2 linked regions of the Homo sapiens genome follow. The protein of the gene in region 1 purifies or fractionates together with the protein of each later gene. This does not show direct contact. Each region holds a gene or a part of one and is shown on either strand. Other genes may lie near its edges.

The links.
Region 2: the proteins of SON (region 1) and TRIM26 fractionate together in Homo sapiens (co-fractionation; one large-scale study listed by BioGRID). This does not show direct contact.

Annotation. Positions count from the first base shown.
Region 1 is NC_000021.9:33,574,038-33,577,981, reverse strand, and holds the end of SON (protein SON), read right to left. Parts: intron 2,387-3,944; coding exon 2,315-2,386; intron 2,205-2,314; coding exon 2,089-2,204; intron 1,618-2,088; coding exon 1,558-1,617; 3' UTR 501-1,557; downstream 1-500. UniProt on the Homo sapiens protein: RNA-binding protein that acts as a mRNA splicing cofactor by promoting efficient splicing of transcripts that possess weak splice sites.
Region 2 is NC_000006.12:30,206,907-30,210,406, forward strand, and holds part of TRIM26 (tripartite motif-containing protein 26), read right to left. Parts: intron 1-3,500.

The DNA of each region.
Region 1 (3,944 bases):
AAATATGTTACTTTACGATTTACCTGTTAGCAGGTTCTTGTTTCATAAAGGTAGAAAATAAATACAGACAACATCTACTGAGCTAGTTGATTGGTGATGCTTCTACCTTAATATCTTTCCTACTGATTTATAATTCCTTTATTTTCACATATACTAAAACTTTTTAAATGCATGTTAATTCAGATAAAAAGGCATTTTGTATTCCACATAGAATAGTGTTAAGAATTGTGAAGTACACTGAGCTGTCACGGCAAAGTAGTATTTAATGTGCTTATAGGGGTGTGTGTGTGTGTGTGTGTGTGTGTGTGTGTGTGTGTGTGTGTGTGTGTGTGTGTGTGTGTGTGTGTGTGTGTGTGTGTGTGTGTGTGTGTGTGTGTAGGGGGGGACTGTATAATTCACATTTTTAAAATAAAAGTGCTTAAAAATCAAAAGCATTGGGTAAAGAAATAATAGTATCTAAGTATTTGTTCACTTTATAACCCAGAAAATAAAACACCACGTTTATTCCAGAGAAGTTTGTATTTGGGCCTTAAGCTTTTGAAAATAAAGTTTAGAGACATAGCATATGAATACCACTGTAATACACATGAAATATTCTATCAGACCCTAAAAATTAACATAAACTTTTAACTTTCTCATAGTCAACAAAATAGTGGCTGGTTGCCAATTTTATTAGATAAGTTGGTTACAGCATTTTAATTATCATTTTACGTCTATCTAGGTGTAGCTGAAATTCAAAATGCACATCAAAGTAAAACTATATCACAACTCAATGCCATACTAAATGTACTGGCCTCTGCAATAGAATTCTAGTCAGACTTCATTTTTTACTCCCTTCTTATGACCCAAGTGGCTTTAACAGGAATGCAGGACTTAGTGCTGATCATCACACAACATACCACTTTCTTTTTAGAACCTCTACAAAATTTTGAGGGGAGATGGTGGCATTAGCCCTGTGGAACAGATCTTGATCACCTCAATAACACTGGCCCATTATCTGTCCAGCAGAACCCATTGTGAAATAGTACAAGGTGCACAGCCCTTCACTGATTACAGGCAAGTGTTACAGTAGCCTAGCCATAAGGAAGGGGAGTTACATCATAGTACAAAATACAGTATAAAAGCGTTATTTAACATTCCACACTGAAGATTACTCTGATGCCTTCAAACAGTCGTTTGGATGTTAGCCACTTAAACAAATACATCACTAAGGTAAACAATATAAACATACCAAAACCCTGTATGGTTAAATACAATTTCCATGGTACAAAAATCAAAGCCTGGAGATGTTTTTACAGATTGCTTTTTACACAATGTCTTAAATTGCCAAATATTTACAACATTAAAGAGGAAATACATTGTGATGCAGAGTAAAATTCTGAAATGATTATTATAAAACCTCAATCTATCTACGTGAGGCACTCCTGAAGCAAGTGGCATTAGCCATGAGGTCCTTTGGTACAAGGCCCATTGCTTGAAGAACCACAGTAGCTGCTGTGGCTTTAGCATGCTTCTTATTAGGGCTGGCAAAGCTGGGCTGGTAAGCGCTTCCATTTATCAATACCTATTCAAGAAAAACATACAATTGGGTCTGGTAAGGGCTCCATTTCTCAATACCTATTCAAGAAAAACATACAATAAGAACAGCATCAAACTTTAATATCTATTAGCTTTGTATTTTTTCACTAAATGCTAGAAAAATAATTTACAAAAATATAAAACCCATACTATGTAAGTCAAATTATAATCTCAACCCGAAGAACCAAATCATTTGGGAAAGGGACTGCAAATTAGAGCAGGTCTCCAAATTGAGAAAAAGACTGACAAAAGTATTAAATTAATTCCCCACATTCAACTAGAAAATAACAATTGTATACTATATTTTACCCTTTTCCAATTTTTTAAAAAATAGGACATTGACAAGTCGTATTAAAGCACCCTTCAGTGTTTAAAAACCCCACCACTTAACTACAAATACAAACCCCCCACCCATGAACAGAATCTTAATCCTGTGATCATGTTTACCCCTCACCCTCTAAGTCATCACATTAATAAATATATATAATTAATGCAGAAATTCATATTTACCCTAAAGAGAAAATGTTTGCGATGATCAGGGCCACTATCATGGACCAATAGAAATTCAGGTGGTTGCCACCTTCTTTTATTACAGATCTCCATCAAAGCAGACACAGGATGTTTGCCTGCAGGGGGGAGAAATACCCAGTTTTAAATTATTTCCACCAACTTCTGCAACAAATAATGAATTCAAGGTGGGATTAGGGTAAGAGGAAATTCAAAAACGTGCTCTCACCTGACAGATCTTTCATTGCAGCAGAGAAGTTCCCAGACCTCTTTTGTGCTCTTTCTCCTACTGCAACAAGACCTTTAAAAAAAAATTGTTCACTAAATAAATTTCAAAGCACCACTTTAAAACAAAGATCCCTCTGTAGGAGTCTGAACCTCAAAATGTATGCCTTCAAATAAAATCAGCAGATTCCTAGTACACTCGATTTCTCTATCAATCTTCTCTTTCTTCTCTTTTACTGTTTTTCAGCATATAAATTTATATTTAATATTCATAGATCTTGGTATGAGAAATTGTAATAAATACCAAATGTAAACAGAAAACAAAAAGTTAAGTATGGCCAGGCACAGTGGCTCATGCCTGTAATCCCAGCACTTTGGGAGGCCGAGGCGGGTGGATCTCCTGAGGTCAAGAGTCTGAGACCAGCCTGGCCAACATGGTGAAACCCCGTCTCTACTAAAGAAACAAAAATTAGCCGGGCGTGGTGGTGCGCGCCTGTAATCCCAGCTACTCGGGAGGCTGGGGCAGGAGAATCGCTTGAACCTGGAAGCGAAGGTTGCAGTGAGTAAAGATCGTGCCACTGACAGCCTGGGCAACGAGCAAAACTCCATCTCAAAAAAAGAAAAAAAATAGCTTATTGCCAAGTGATTTCTGCAGATTTACTGTCTCTTAAAAAAATAAGCTTCAGTTAAGACTCTTCCAAAAAAGGTTAGGATTTTAAGCCACCAAAAAGGTGAAAACGGTTGTCTCCAAATAAAATAGGTCCCTTTTTTCCTAGCAAACTCTCCTCTCCCTTCCTAACAAATGGGAGATGTTCTCAAAATATGAACATAACCTTTCTACATAACCTCTCTCTCCATAGACTTATTACAAAGGGGATTAGCTACATTGCTAAACCCAAACACTGCTTTCCCAATTCATATACAGGTTGAGTATTCCTTATCCAAAATGCTTGGGACCAGAAGTGTGTCGGTTGATTCCAGGTTTTCAAATATTTGCATTGTATTTAGCGGTCAAGCATCCCAAATCTGAAGAGGCTGAAATCCAAAATGCACCAATGAGTATTTCCTTTGAGCATCATATCAGTATTCAAAAAGTTTTCTGTTTTAAAGCATTTCAGGTTTCCAGATGTGGGATGCTCATCCTGTATGTTACAGGAAATTTTTCAACCTTTGCTAAATAATTCCATGCTAATATAAGCTTTTCTAAACCTATCCTGGGAAATCTGTGGTTCTCTGAGAGCTTACAGTCAGGCCATGTCCCACAATTCCAAGGACAATGCTTCCTGAAATTGTACAATACTTAACATCAAAGTATTTGGTGCAGAGCTAGTTCATTTCCAAATTCATTAAGACAGTTTAACTATTGAAGTTAGCTTCAACTTACTGTTTGATTACAAAGATGAAAATAAATCCCAGTTTTACATTTGTCAGCTTTTATAAATGAGGTTTAAACAAGCTATACAAAAATCATACTGAGCTGGCAAGCCTCTCATGATTCCACTTACATTATTCCAAGGGAAGAAGTTATTTAAAAGACGCCAATTAGCTATCATCTGTGGGAATGATTAAATACTTAGCAACTACATACAAGCTACATAGAAGACACAGTGCTGCCCTGCCCAGGTATCTGAAGG
Region 2 (3,500 bases), on another chromosome or scaffold:
CAGCAAGGCCAGCACTAGCACGAGGTGGGGTGAGGTGCACCTCCCAGCTCTGGGCTCCTTCCATTCCACCATACACTGCACTTTGGTGCCTGGAAAATGAACTCTTCCCTGCCCATATGGAGTGCTGTGGAGGGTTAGCCTCACAGGCAGAGGAAATCATCCGCCGGAGAAAGGGTAGCGGTGAATTTGAGGAGCTGACAATTGGCCACAGGTGGAGTGCAGTGAGGCGAGCAGAGGAAGGGTGGAGAAACAGGAGGGAACAGATTATGCAAGACTGTGACCCAGGTTAAGAATTTTGGACTTTATCCTAACAGCCCTGGGAAGCCATTGAGGGTTTAAGCAGCAGGATGTTGAAAGTTATTCAACAGCTAGCAGATGTTTATTAGGTGCCGACTATGTGTCAGGCACCGAGGTTACAGCAGAGAACAAAAGTGGCAAACTCCCTGTCCTACCAGAACTTACATCCAGTGACCTGAGGAATCCTTTAGAAGCTGAAATCAGATCCAACTGTGGGATCATCAAACCCTCAAGGGTTTCCTGATTTACATAAACCTCCTCTCCCCTTTGCTGCCCCAGTGCTGCAGCCACTCTGGCCTTTTGATCCTCAAACACACTCGGTCACGTGTTAAACTGCCAATCTGCCCGGGTGACCAACCAGGTTAAACCCCTCAATGGCTTTCTGGTGCTCCAGGAATAAAGTCAAAACTCCTGTCCTTCCTTTCTTCTGTGAGGAGGCTGTCCCAGGAGATCCTAGCTGGATTCCCAGATAATCATGGCCCAGCCTGTGTCTCCAGGCTCATTTCCTGCCACTCCCCACCTCAAACTCACAGCCAAACCAAACCGCTCTCCATGCCTCAAAGTGCTATGCTCTTTCCTGGCTAAGCCCTTCGACAATGTAATTCCTTCTGCCTAGAACACCATCCCTTTCCCACTTAGCAAATGCCTTTTCTAGCTTGAAGTCTCAGCTGAAAGCCACCTCCTCTGGCAATTCTTTCCTGACCTGTCAGATTGGGTCCACATGTAGTCTAGTTATACAGCCCCAAAACACCCCATGCTGCACCCTGTACTTCTCTGCAGTTTTAAGTCCTGACTTATTAGTGTAATTACTCGCTTAACACCAGCTTTTTCCATGAAACAAGGAGAGAGATTGTGTCTGTCTTATCACCAGAATCTACATATTACTTGGCACAGAGTAGACAATAAAAACTGACTGAGAAAACAAAGCACAAGCACAGAGTATCTGACACAAAGAAGATGCTTCCTACACATCTGCTGAAGGAATGCGAACAATCTTAGCCACCTGCCCTTTCTCTCCAGCAAGATGGTAGTAAATTGGTAGAGAGAGAAGCAATTTCTTCATATTCCCTGTAGCAGCAAGAACAGTGGGCTGCACGTCACCAGCAAATCATCGTATCCAAGGTTTCGCTCCAGCAACTTACAGAAACCAGGAGAAGAAAAAGCTGTGTCTGAGAAAATGGTTGTTGTGGAGTAAATTGTAATAGTGAGAATCACTCCTTCCCTTTTCTTTAGTTTTAGACCTAGGTATACACCCCATAAACAGAGTTTATTTTCTCAGGTTTTGAGCCTCAAATGAATGGAATTTTTTTCCTTTTTTTTTTTTTTTTTTCCATGTATTTGGGTGGGGGGCTGTCAACATGTTTGTGAGGCTCATCCATGTGATTATGAGCTGATTTTACTTAATTGCTGCTCTCTAACTATACAATTTTTAATGCAGTCTACTGATAGCCATATGAGTTGTTTCCAGTTTGGGACAATTACAAACACTGCTTCAGTGAATATTTCTGCATACATGTTCTAGCACACACAGGCAAGATGTACCCTCAATTTGACTAAGCAGGCCAAACTGTTTCCAAAGTGACTATAGTGCTATGTAGTCTGCTCAGCAGGCTATGAGCACTCATGATGCCCCACAGCCTCACCAACACCTGATAATATCAGCTTTAATTTTTGCCACTCTGGAGGATGGGATATAGAATATGTGTGTGTGTGTGTGTGTGTGTGTGTGTGTGTGTGTGTGTGTGTGTATTTAACTCCCCAAAAGGAAACAGCATGAGACAGGCCCAATAACAGGCCAAGGAATCCTATAGCAGCAGACCAGATATTGTGCTCCTCGACCCAACCAGTAAATGTTGTAAATGTTTATCTTTGGGGAGAGAAGGGGAAGGGCCCACCCAGCTTCTGTTCTTCTTTCCCTTGGTAACTTACCATCTATGAGTTAGTGAGATGGAGACATCCTAACCATTAATCCAGGGAAAGGGAGGAATCTAAGCCATCAGCAAGGGAGTTAGTGCTTTTCATCAAATTTGAGACACCTGTGACATCACATTTTAGCATCTCTGAAATGTGATCAATTGCATGTCATAATTTAACTGGCAAAATATTTTTTTGATGTGGAGCATAAAATAAGGGCACATAAAAGATTTGGTGGTGCTGTGGTTTGAACATGTCCCCCAAAAGTTCACGTGTTGGAAACGTAATTGCCAATGTAACGGTATTAAGAGGTGGGGTCTTTAAGACGTGACTGGGTCATGAGGGTGTAACTCTCATGAATGGATTAATGCCTTTCTTGCAAGAGTCCATTGGCCAGAACCGTGAGCTGAATAAACATCTGTTGTTTACAATTTACCCAGTCTGTGGTATTCTGTTACAGCAACAGAAAATGGATTAAGACAAATAGCATCTTAGATTTGGTGAGATGTGGCATATTTCCTAAAAAGTGCTGCCAGGATCATCCTTCTAGCACACAGGATCTCATCCTTGTTATTCTCCTGCTTCAAATCTCCTAGCTGAGGCTGGGTTTGGTGCCTCATGCCTATAATCCTAGCACTGTGGGAGGCTGAGGCAGGAGGATCCCTTGAATCCAGGGGTTCAAGACTAGCCTGGCCAACATAGGGAGAGACTGTCTCTAAAATAAAATAAATAAATAAAAATAAAAATAAAAATAAAAACAAACACACCAAAAAAACTCCTACTAGCTGAGGTCAAAACTGCACAGGTGGCCGGGCACGGTGCCTCACGCCTGTAATCCCAGCACTTTGGGAGGCCGAGGTGGGCAGATCATGAGGTCAAGAGATCGAGACCATCCTGGCCAACATGGTGAAACCCAGCCTCTACTAAAAATACAAAAATTAGCCGGGCATGGTGGCACGCGCCTGTAGTCCTAGCTACTCGGGAGGCTGAGGCAGGAGAATCGCTTGAACCCAGGAGGCGGAGGTTGCAGTGAGCTGAGATCACGCCACTGCACTCCAGCCTGGGTGACAGAGCGAGACTCTGACTCAAAACAAAAAAAAAAAACTGCACAGACATCCTCCCCTGCCCTGCATCCGGCTAGCCCCAACTTACCCATCCAGCCCCAAATCCCTCCTCGTCCTACCTAATTCTCTGGCCATTAGATACACTGAACCAGGAAGACAGCCCCTTCTTCACTCCCCACTCTCCACCCATTCCCTTGTACATGCTCTTCTCTCCAGTCCAGCGCA